2 separate regions of the Homo sapiens genome follow, and region 2 is linked to region 1. The links come from fine-mapping of genetic effects on gene expression. Tissue or cell type: whole blood. Region 1 holds a variant in brackets; the other region holds the start of a gene. All regions are shown on one strand. Distances are between the middles of the regions.

Region 1 (6,040 bases):
AATAAGATTTGCAAAAATGTAAAAAACAAAGCTACTTACTTTTTGTTTTTTATTTTAAGTTATTTTTGGCCAGGCATGGTGATTTATGCCTGTAATCCCAGCACTTTGGGAGGCCAAGGCAGGAGGATCTCTTGAGTCTGGGAGTTTGAGACCAGCCTGGACAACATAGTGAGACCCTCGTCTCTAAAAAAAAAAATCAAAAAATTAGCTGGGTGTGCTGATGCGTGCCTGTGGTCTCATCTACTTGAGACGCTGAGGTAGGAGGATCACACCCCAGGAGATCTAAGCTACAGTGAACCATGATCATGCCACTGCATTCCAACCTGAGCAACAAAGCGAGACCTTGTCTCAAAAAACAGTTATTTTTCATAAAAAATGTTATTTATGGTTGCAGTAATGGGTGTATTATTTTAAATGAATTAATAATTTTGAAGTTTTCTTTGTAATTTCAAATATGATAAATACAGATAAAATCTCGAGGTCTTCAGTATTTTGAGTGTAAAAGTGTCCTCAGATAAAAAAGGTCGGAGGATAGCTGAATTACAGTGTTGTTTAGGTCTGTACTGTATGGTAGCCACTAGCCGCATGTATCTGAGTACTTAAAATGTAGCTAAGAAACTCAATTTTTAATTTTAATTAATTTAAACTTAATTTCTGGCTGATCTCATCTTGCAGAGGGCAGTTCGCTCTCCCCCTCCGAGAGTGTAAAAAAAAAAAAAAAAGAATTGCCATTCTTTTTCCTTTTTATACTTTATAATGCAAGTATATTGATTAAAAGGTCAAGGGGGAAAAGGTGAAGATGGAGTATTCCAGACCTTTAATTACCTTTTCCCCCTTTTTATTGCCTTCATTTGTATTCTTCATTTACCTATTACTGGTATAGCTTTGGGGCATTAGAGGATAAGTAGTGGTAAATCGGGTGCTGCAGTTGACTGAAGACCTTGTACTATTAGTTTATAGTGTTGCTTATAGGAGAATACCACTATCACCTAATGAAGTGTTTTCTAATTTTTTTTCACTGCTCTCAAACTAAATTGCTACTAAATTTTATTTTTGACTTGAGAACATTTTTATGAACTAGATCCATTGCCAGCATTCTTTTATGCAAAGCTGAGAGGTATGCCTCTTGTCAGACTTAATTACCAAGTTTGGTATTTTGTAACAGCTGTTGAGTGAGTCTGGAATAGTCTTCAGTACCATACAAACACCGGTTGATTAGAAAGATAGAAATGGAACAAGAAGATATTTACCAATATTAAATGAAGGTACAAGCAAATATTATTTTTGGTACTGTAATAAAAAGTAAAACAGTTCTTGAAATTTATTTCAAGGGGGATTGACCAGCAATAGCCACTACCAGTGGTAACTAGAAAATGATACCTGTCAGACTACTTTTAGCTTCATTGTTTCTATTTTTAAAATGAGTTATTTATTTTTCCTTCTATAAATTTCATAGATGTAGAAAGATACCAGTAAGTCAAGTTTTAAGTAAGATAAGGAATTCTACTTTTCAGCTCTTGCTTGTAGCTTGCTTACTTTGATTGCACAACACTGTTAAATTCATGCTTATTCTTAAATGTGCAAAATTATAGTTTAAATTTTATTTGAATTATTGATCTGAACAAAATAGTATTTTTTTTTTAATTACAGACACAAGTAGGAGAAATATTTCTTAAATTTCTGTTAAAAGTTACTTGACTTATGTAAACAAAAATAAAAAGATAGTGCTCACTTTTACAAAATGTGTTAAGTTTTGGAAACTGGCATTAGTACATTATTGTAAATTGATCTGAGAACAGCCTCTTAGATTTTTGTATTTTGCATTATTTTAGTTAGTAAATAAAAATGATGAGATAAAATTAGTAAGCAGTAAAAAAGTAATCAGTGTTCCTCTTAACATGCTTGTAACTTACAAAGTAAGTTTATTTTACATTTTTATTTAGTTTTGAAATATCTTCCATTTAATGCTCTCTGAACTGTAGATTGAGTGTTCTAAAATCTGAAACTGAGCACTGATGTGACACTCGAAGTGCTCATTAAAGCATTTTGGATTTTTAGATTTGGGATGTTCCACTGGAAATATATAGTGCAGATATATATTTTTTTAAATTCGAAATCTGAAACACTTCTGGTCCTAAGCATTTTGGATAAGGCATGCCCAACCTATAGTAGTATAAGCTTCATGAGGCCAGAAATCTGTTCACACTTGTGTCAGGTTTATAGCACAGGGTCTGGGCACATGGTAAATGTCAGCAACGATTTGTCAGTTGTACGTAGAGTATTAGATCTTCTGGCTGATAACTTCATAGGTAATTTATGCATATTTTATGTTGTCATCGTAAATTTAAAGTATGAATGAGTAAATTTTCTAAGTATGTATTTTACTCTGTAAATATAAAATATTTCTGAGATATAATATGTTGAATTTTAGGGGGGAAGGGGAAGTTGAGGTCAGAAATATGTGCAAGAATTACACCTTGAAGAAGTAATTTCCATTGACATAACAATTTTAATAACACAAAATCATGGTTTTGAAAATGTGCCTCAAACTATGTAAGAATTCAGGGCACGTAATATGTAACTGTTAGGCAAATTTCATTTTGTTTATAACTTGAAACATTAAAAAAACTGGTAAAATTCTCTTGCTGTATTATTATTGAATACTTGAAGCTCTGATTTTAATATGGTAAAGTTTTAGGGTGTGTCTTAATACAATTACATAAGGAATTAGTTTGCCCAGGATAGTTTATTAATAGCACCTAAGACAAGAGCTAAATTGCA[A/G]CACAAGCAGACTTTAAAGAGAATGCTTGCTAGAATAAATTTTAAAAACTGGAGAATTGAAGGTTTTTTTTTTTTCTTAGTGTATGTGAGTATTGTAGGGAGGCACTTTGAAAACAATAATTGAGAATGATAATATGTCTTATACTTAATAATGCTAAGTTTTCTTAAAGTTGAGCTACACAGGCTGATTGAATCCTTTGCTTCAGTGAAGCTGCAGATAAGAGTAAGCAGGGTCACCTAAAGATAGATTTACTTAGAGGTTTGGCTGCCTCTCTGGAACCATTTAGCTTTGAACAGATTTCCATAAATGGAAAGAGCAACTGGAGAGACCCAGTACCTTGTGGATGATGTGCAACAGGTGGTAAAACAGTCATTGGATTTTTAAAATAAATGCTTTCCAAATGACTGTTGTTTAAGACTGAGGCTTTAGCATTTAGGGAACTTTGAGATGAACTGGATTTTTTCCCCCAATTAAAAGTTTCCTGGAAACAATTTTAAAAGATTCATATCGTTAGTGTATAGTGCTTATGAATTTGTAATATGACTTTATGAAATTTGTATAAACATTTACTTTTAGTTCCTTTAGGGGACATCTTAAAAAAAATCTGTCAAGTTAGAGACTCTTAAATATTCATGTTTCAGAACGTCTTACTAAGTTAACTGTTCAACATTTTAAGTCAGGATGTGAAATTAATATATTATTAAGATAATAAAATTTGTTCTTGAATTGCTGATTTTCTTGTAAGGTCAGTGGGTTGTCCTTAATTCAGTACATAAAATAAATACCTGCCTGGCGTGATGGCTCATGCCTGTAATCCCAGCACTTTGAGAGGCCGAGGCGGGTGTATCACCTGAGGTCAGGAGTTCAAAACCAGCCTGGCCAACATGGTGAAACCCCGTCTCTACTAAAATACAAAAATTAATCCGGTATGGTGGCATGTGCCTGTAATCCCAGCTACTCAGGAGGCTGAGGCAGAAGAATCGCTTGAACCTGAGAGGTGGAGGTTGCAGTGAGCTAGATCATGCCACTGCACTCCAGCCTGGGCAACAGAGCGAGACTCCGTCTCAAAAAAAATAAAAATAAAAATCCGCATGTCTGCTCCATGAAAAGTCTATGTTGGGAACCATGGCATATGTAAAGATGGGTTAAGCTAGCCCCCCAGACCTCAAGAAGTTTATAATCTTACAGGAATGATAAGAAATTATCATATTCTTGCTCTATGAGAGAGATTAAGTTGCTTACCTCAGGTAACAGAAATAAGTGGCAGAGACTGGAACCCAAGCTGTTGGACCTGAAAGCCCAAACCACTGACTGCTGTACACATTGTTTTACAAGTAACATAATCAGCAAAGCATAAAGGAAGTGCTAGAAGAGGAGAGATACAAAGCGTGGTAGAATTTGAAGGCCTCATGGGAAGAATAAACTCTAAGAAAAAGTCTTAGGTTAAAACCCACTGAGGCTCTGAAGAGAGCGAGGTTAATTATAAAGAAAGTTCTCAAGTACTCTGGCAGTAAATATAATGCATGTTGTTATCCATCTTTAGTCACCTCTGCCTGGAGAGTACAGTTGTCCCTCAGTATACCTGGGGTATTGGTTCCAGGATGTCTCCTCCACCTGGCAGATACCAAAATCCTAGAATGCTCAGTCAAGTCCCTTATACAAAATGCTGTAGTATTTACACTGTATTTTTAATTGTTGTATTTTTTTTATTGCCTCCCCCTCCCCTGCAATATTTTCTTTTTGTTTTTTTTTTTTGAGACAGTGTCTCACTCTGTCGCCCAGGCTGGAGTGCAATGGTGTGATCTTGGCTCACTGCAACCTCCGCCTCCCAGGTTCAAGCGATTCTCCTGCCTCAGCCTCCTGAGTAGCTGGGACTACAGGTGCCCGCCACCACGCCCGGCTAATTTTTATGTTTTTGATAGAGATGGAGTTTCACCATGTTTGTCAGGATGGTCTCGATCTCTTGACCTCGTGATCCGCACGCCTTGGCCTCTCAAAGTGCTTACAGGTGTGAGCCACCACACCCGGCCCCCCTGCAATATTTTCAATCTGAGGTTGTTTGACTCTGCTGATGCGGAACCCTTGGACACGGAGGGCTTACTCTACTCAGTCATTCAAGAGGGTCTGTAAGAATTGAATTAATTGATTAAATTAGCGCAGCATGGTTCTGTTAGGTGCCCTGGCTTTAATGGCAATACATCAAAATATATAATTGCCCTCACAGGGTTTTTAATCTACAACCAGCCTCTCCCTGACCCTTCCTCCCTTCCCACAAGTTAGTATTGGCCTAAAATTGATGCAGGGTTCAAATTTCAAGGATCTTTCTTTGTTTTCCTTTGAGTAAGATTCAGAAACTTCTCAGTAATTTCTTTTGTTGTTGTTGTTTTGAGACAGAGTCTCACTCTGTCGCCCAGGCTGGAGCGCAGTGGTGCGATCTCAGCTCACTGCAACCTCTACCTCCTGGGTTCAAGCGATTCTCCAGCCTCAGCCTCTTGAGTAGCTGGGATTACAGGCATGTGCCACCACGCTCAGCTAATTTTTCTATTTTTTGGTAGAGACGGGGTTTCACCATGTTGGTCAGGCTGGTCTTCAACTCCTGACCAAGGTCTACCCTCCTTGGCCTCCCAGAGTGCTGGGATTACAGGCATGAACCACCATGCCTGGCCAACTTCTCAGTAATTTCTAATCAATGTCATTGGTTACTTCATAATCAATATTCATTTTATATCAGTATTCATTTTATAAAATGTAGATATTAGCTTTTTAAAAATTATTTCTGTAATTTATATAGACGAATAGATATCAATGGCTTAGAGTTAGTCATGTTATTTTATATTTATTTATTTTTCATTTCTCTTTCAGGAGTGAATATGTTTATTTCTTAGTAATATGTTTTAGTCATGTGTTTAGTGTATTTTTAATTGAGTAGAACTTATTTTTCCTCCAGTGGAAGCATCAGTTCACAGCAGTAATGCACACTGTACAGATAAGACAATTGAAGCTGCTGAAGCCCTGCTTCATATGGAATCTCCTACCTGCTTGAGGGATTCAAGAAGTCCTGGTATGTAAACTGTTCATTCTTATGTTAAACGTGTCATACTACTTCATATGTCTAAAATAAAGTTTTTTGTTTTTTTAATCCAATGGAATTGTTGGGAATTCTCAAAGGTACATTACACATGAATACATGACAGCAGTAATTGAACTTTATTTGTCAAGGCCTCCAAGTCTTAAATACTTAATTTTCATAACAAATGA
Region 2 (6,040 bases), 380 kb before region 1:
ATGAACATTTCAGCAGCACTCAAGATGTATTACAGGTTAACCAAAAAGCAGCAGAAGCAGCACATAGAATAAAGCTCTTTATATCACTTTTCAGTTTTCGAAAAAAAGGGCACTAAAAAAAATTAAGCTCTGTGGTTTTAAAAAATGCCCAACATAGCTATATCTTTTCCTACTATAGAAACCTCAGAACATGTCTGTAGTCATTTCAACCACAATAAAAATCTCTCTCAAGTCTCACCATTGGTGGCACAAATCAACGGCTAGGGCCTTAGAAGAAAAATGATCTCAGTATTCAAGTCCATATCAATGTAACAAGTTAGGCTAAAGTTCAGTAGAAATAATCTCCCCAAAAAATATCATCTCCTTGCTCTTCCCAACCAGAATTATCAACTCTGTGCTCCCAGATTCGTCATACCTGTGGTTCTGTCTTATTTATCACTGCCAGCACTCACCTCAGTAGTTAGGTAATTGACTTTATACACTGCACATGCTTTATATTTTTTCAATACTATTATCTCTTAAATTTGCACCTGATTCATCTGTTATCTTTAAGTATAAATGGCAACCCAGGAACAGATAAAGGGCCCTCAAATCCCAACTCCTCCCCCACCCTCATTCTCTCCACTTTTGAAAGAATTTCCTACTTCCGTTTTTGTTTTTGTTTTGTTTTTTAAATTTCTCTCCCCTTAGCTGTCTACCTATGCCCTCCACTATCTCTGCTTTCAACTTTGGGTGTACAACTGCAGAACTAATGGTGGCAAACAGGAAAAATAATGTTAAGCCACCAGGAAAGACAAAGAATCTTTTTAAAGGCACCAACTATGAACCAGGTGCTTCATATATGTCCTCATCTGATCCTCACAGCAGCCTGATAAGGTATCATGATCCCAGTTTTTCGGAAGAAAAATACAGACTCTGAGAGGTTAAAGAATCTGCCTAAGGTCCAGGGTGACCAACTATTTTGGTGTGCCCAATACAGGGGGTCCCCGGGATGTGAGACCCAGTTTTAAAACCTGGACAGTCTTGGGCAAAGTTGGTCACCCTAGTAAGGACACGCAGCCCATCCCTACCCTTTCGTAGGTTCAGATATGAATCCAGGTTAGTTGGGCTCCAAAGCCCACGTACTTCCCAGATTCCTGCTTCTCCCAATCTTAACTCCCTTGGAACTTCAGAAGCTCCATTATTTTTCACCCCAAAGGCTTCTGGGCCAAACCTAATTCTGGTGAAAAATGTTTAGCCTTTTATTCTATCTTTTCTTCTGCAAGTATACAAATCTTTCTAAATTCCCTAATACAAAGCAACTCCAAAACCACCACTGAGAGCTCATATGGGACATGAAATACTAATGTGAAAAATTAAAAGACAGAAGCACCAAAGAAAGGTTAATTTCTTTTAACCCAGCTTACTTCACCTCTACCATCATTAGCAGTATAACCCGTTGGGGTGGGGGGCGATGATTAGGGAACTGAAAAATAAATTGTTCTTGCCTCTAAGATACGAGGGTAGGAACGTCTAAAGCAAGCCTGTTCTCCCACCACTCCCCATCCCCACCAAGAGACTGAGATAAAGACGATCGCTGATTTAAAGCAGTAGTATAAGGCAAGGTGGTTCCACCTATGTTTTAAGGAGTGGCATCAACAGGTGGCATTTAGTGGTGGCTTGCTATGAAGGTGTGTCTAAGGTTTATACCATCAAGAGGCCTAAGCCTTGTCATTGATCCTCATTCCACTGTTAGATTCCAACCCCTCAGAACTTCAAACCTGCCCTGGGGCCTATACTACCTTCTCCACTATTACTGTCACTCAGTGTCCCCAGTCCCAGGGACCAAAAATAACGACTTAAAGGGAATAAAGAATTGGGCGTGTGTCTGAGGTGGCATCATGAGAAATGCTTTTGGCAACCTGAGTAGGAACTATCACATATAGAATGTTTCTGCAGGAAAATAGATTTTTCTAAAATCAGTATCATAAAGAAACTACTACAGCAAAACTGTATGCAAGAGAATACCTAAGTACTTCCTCAAAGGCAATAGGCTTTACTTCCACAACATCTAAGGCACTGCTCGAATGAATGTTTAATAACTATTACTGATTAAATGAATTTTCCATTCTCGCGCAATTTCACTGTTTTTCCTCCGTTCATATTTGACTGACTCCCAGCACACGACACACACAGTAAATGGGTCGGTAGATAAGCCCTACACTCCTGAACTCAAAGTGTGGTCCACGGACTAGCTGCACCTGCATCATCAGCGAGATTATTAAATCATAGCCTGCATTTTCAAAAACAAGATCCCCAGGTAAATCGCATGCACAATGAAGTCTGAGAAACGCTGCCTTAGAAGTTTGCAGTATTGCAATCCTTCCAATCCCCAACTCCAATCTCATCAGCGTGAGAAAAAAATGGAGCGCACACACACCGTGCACACGGCCAGCGACCAGCCCACGGTGGGGTTGGGACACCTGTCACCCTGTCCTCCCCAACAGTTCCCCATCCGCTCACCTTGATGCGCTCCCCATCAATCTCCACCGCTCGTTCTCGGAAATCCACCCCTATCGTGGCCTCGGTGCGGTCGGGGAAGCGGCCAGCGCAGAAGCGGTAGGTCAGGCATGTCTTGCCCACATTGGAGTCGCCGATCACGATTATCTTGAAGATGCGGGAGCGGGCAGGAGGCAAAAACCCTGAGGCCCCTGACACTGCCCCGCTGGACGAAAAGCTTGCCTCGAGCGACGACTCCATCTCCTCAGCCATTCCCCCGACCCGCCCCAAACTGAGGCGGAGGAAAGGAGACACAGAAAGGCTGAGAGATTACGCCACCGCAAGAGCGCGCGCCCAGCCGGCCAGTTCGGCTGCGCAACTTCCCAGGAGCCACCGCCCACCAGCCCCGAGCGCGCCTGCGCACCTTCCCGCCCCGCCCTTGCCCGCACAGGTGTGGCACCCGCCCGCCCCGCCGCACGGAGCCGCCTGCCCGCGGCCACACGCCAGGCGTCACTCGGGCTGGCGCCGGTCTACCTAGGCAGGCGTGGGACCTGTCGGGGGCTTCACGGCAGCGCGGAAGGCCAGCCTGCAGAGAGGCTGGGCCCAGCGCCCTGACTGACCCAGCCCCGCCACGTCCAAGGTTCCCGCCCTCTGGAGGAAGCCGCGCAATCACTCCGGGGGCGGGGAGAGACAGACAACTGAGAGGAAGGAGGTACCACGGGCACTCTCTCGCGAGAGGGCCGCAGAGCCGCCTTTGACGGGGGCGTGTACCTGGAGAGCAACGGTAAGGACGGAGCCGACGGCTCCGGCGTCGGGTCGGTTCCGGCATCGACGTATCGTTTGGTCGCCCCAGAGAGGAGACAGGTTTCTTCAGCTTGCCGCTGAGGATGTGGCATCGGCTGCGCTCACCGCCGCCGCCTCTGTGAACTGCGGGAGTTGGGACAGCGGCCAGGGCTAGATGGGTGGGACGCGAGTCCTCGCCGAAAGCTTGCCCTGTGCGGGGCGCACTTGGAGGCGAGCTCTGGGCCGTGGCGAGTTTTGCAGCCTAAGGTCTTGGCAGGCGCATTGCTGTGGGCTGCCGGAGAGCAGGCTGGAGTTCGAGACCGCCCACCGGAGAGCAGGCGAGAGTTCGAGGCCTAGGTACAGCGCATTTCGCTAGGCATCCCCAAGAATATCCGCGTGATCCTTGTGGCCAGAGTTTGTTGAGCTAATATCCCCAGCCCAAACAGTAGAGCACATCACATGTCGGCCACCTGGGAGCGTTGAACCTGGTAGTTACTAGGCGCCCCTGGTGGAAATAAAACTCATTATGCCCTAGTTATGTCTTAGTGCCTGGGTGACGATGATGTAGCGGTTAAAGATTAACTGAGCGCACTTAGAGGTTGTCTTTGTCTACCTAAGGAAAATATCAATAGATTAAACCCCCAACCTTAAAGAATCTCCGTGAATTTTTCTGAGGAAACGTGCAATATTGTCATACAAAAGGCCCCAAATATGCAAACATTGCTTTTTGTTAAAAGTTTGTTTTGTTTTGCAGTGACATCTGTTTGAGCAGATGAATATGCCATTGGGAAAGTCAAGGACTGTCGGAGAGGAGGACATGGCAGACCTTAACTAAAGTGAGGGGGACAGTAGAGCACTAAAAGTTCTAGGAAAGGAGATGAACTGCTTATTCCATCAGATGAAAATATAGTCAGAACAGATGAGTAGTAGAACTTAAACATGCCCGGAGTTGCCAGGAATTTGCAAAAGCCTTGATATAATTCCTGTTGCTGTAGAAAGACTTTCTACAGTCACTAATATATCAAGTTATGTTCACTAGAAAAAAAGTTTACTTAGTTTATAGAAATGGGCTGAAAAATCCTAATTACTTATCTGTGAGGTTATTTTCATGAAGGTTAATCATCCAGAAACTATTAGAGAGCCTCGGAATATATTTCTTCTAATCTGCTCTACCTATCCCATTCAAAGGAGGGAATCTGAAGATTTAAGGACAAAGAGCAGTTGAAAACTCAGAGCTGTGGTTAATGGGAGAATTTCAAGGATGGTGAAAAAAACTAACATCATTGCATCCCTGTTTTTTGTATTCTGGACTTTTTAGTTTAGCTCTTGGTAAACTACATCAGAAATTCTTTATGCTAACTCTAACACACATTTTGGGGTATTGCTAATTTAATCTTTGAATACTGTTTTTGCTGTTTCATGATTATATGTTATGTCCTACCAGCTAGATTGCCAACTCTTGACTACTGACTGGAAGTTTATTGTTTATTCAGCAAATAATGAATTAAGTCAGTGAAGTGAGAGATTTCGTGTGTAAGGATTGTTAACTTGAACATTTCACCAGTTACACACAGTTCAGCCCTACTTAAATTTTAAAAATCATTGTTGGCACTTGACATTGTTATGAGGAGTTTTGTATTTTCAACTTGTATTTTGAGAGTGTCCTCATGTGACTGAAGTATGTGCTACTCTTCTTAATTGAATAACCCCAGAATCTCCAGAATTGATAATTGGAGGAAATTCTACTGTTGGAAAGAATGGATGGATTATACAGCCCTGTTTTTTGACTGTTCATTTTGTCCTTGGAGTCACTACCACTTGGCCTCAAAGTGTGAACATGTAACCCTTTCCTTAATACTTTGCTACACAGCTGAGCAGAAACTGTAAATTTGGATCCTTTGTCAGTACAACTTAAAATGGAACAATTTCAATGGCTTAGGGTAAGATAAGTATGTAAAGATACTTTTGTAATAGAAGAAAAAACATTGGATATTAAAATCACACAGTAGTACCTGGGTGTGGTGGCTCATGCCTATAATCCCAACGCTTTGGGAGGCCAAGACAGGAGCACTGCTGGAGGCCAGGAATTTGAGACCAGCCTGGCCAACATGGTGAAACCTCGTCTCTACCAAAAAATACAAAAATCAGCCAGGTGTGGTGGCACATGCCTGTAATCCCGGATACTCGGGAGGCTGAGGTGGGAGAATCGCTTGAACCAGGGAGGTGGAGGTTGCAGTGAGCTGAAATCGCAAAACTGCACTCCAACCTGGGCAACAGAGTGAGACCTCCTGTCTCCAAAAAAAAAAAAAAAAAAAAAAAAAAGTGGGTGTGGTTGTGTACACCTCTACTTCCTGCTACTCAGGAGGCTGAGGCTGGAGGATCTCTTGAGCCCAGGAGTTCAAGTCTGCAGTGAGCTATAGTTGCACTGCTGCACTCCAGCCTGGGTAGCACAGCGAGACCCCCATCTCTAAAACATAAAAGTAAACAGGCTGGGTGCAGTGGCTTACACCTGTAATCCCAGCACTTTGGGAGGCCGAGGAGGGTGGATCATGAGGTCAAGAGTTGAGACCAGCCTGGCCAACGTGGCGAAACCCCATCTGTACTAAAAATACAAAAATTAGCCAGTCGTGGTGCCAGGTGCCTTTAATCCCAGCTATTCAGGAGGCTGAGACAGGAGAATCGCTTGAACCTGGGAGACAGAGGTTGCAGTGAGCCAAGATCATGCCATTGCACTTCAGCCTCGGGGACAAGAACAAGACTGTGTCTCAAAAAAAAAAAA

The links. PIP is the estimated chance that this variant, and not a neighbour inherited with it, causes the effect.
Region 2: it holds the start of RAB33B-AS1, and the variant in region 1 is fine-mapped to the expression of RAB33B-AS1 in whole blood (TOPMed, PIP above 0.99).

Annotation. Positions count from the first base shown.
Region 1 is chr4:139,073,257-139,079,296 of GRCh38, reverse strand. It overlaps ELF2 (E74 like ETS transcription factor 2), which reads left to right. Exons shown (of 10, transcript NM_001331036.3): 5 at 5,730-5,843. Among named protein-coding and RNA genes, the nearest start is that of NOCT, 60 kb to the right of the region's middle. The variant A/G (reference allele first, on the strand shown) is at 2,782.
Region 2 is chr4:139,450,907-139,456,946 of GRCh38, reverse strand. It overlaps RAB33B-AS1 (RAB33B antisense RNA 1), which reads left to right and starts at 2,906. Exons shown (of 1, transcript NR_159964.1): 1 at 2,906-5,272. It overlaps RAB33B (RAB33B, member RAS oncogene family), which reads right to left and starts at 2,826. Exons shown (of 2, transcript NM_031296.3): 1 at 2,503-2,826. The coding sequence starts at 2,751. RefSeq lists enhancers at 2,529-2,578, 3,199-3,538 and a silencer at 2,799-3,128.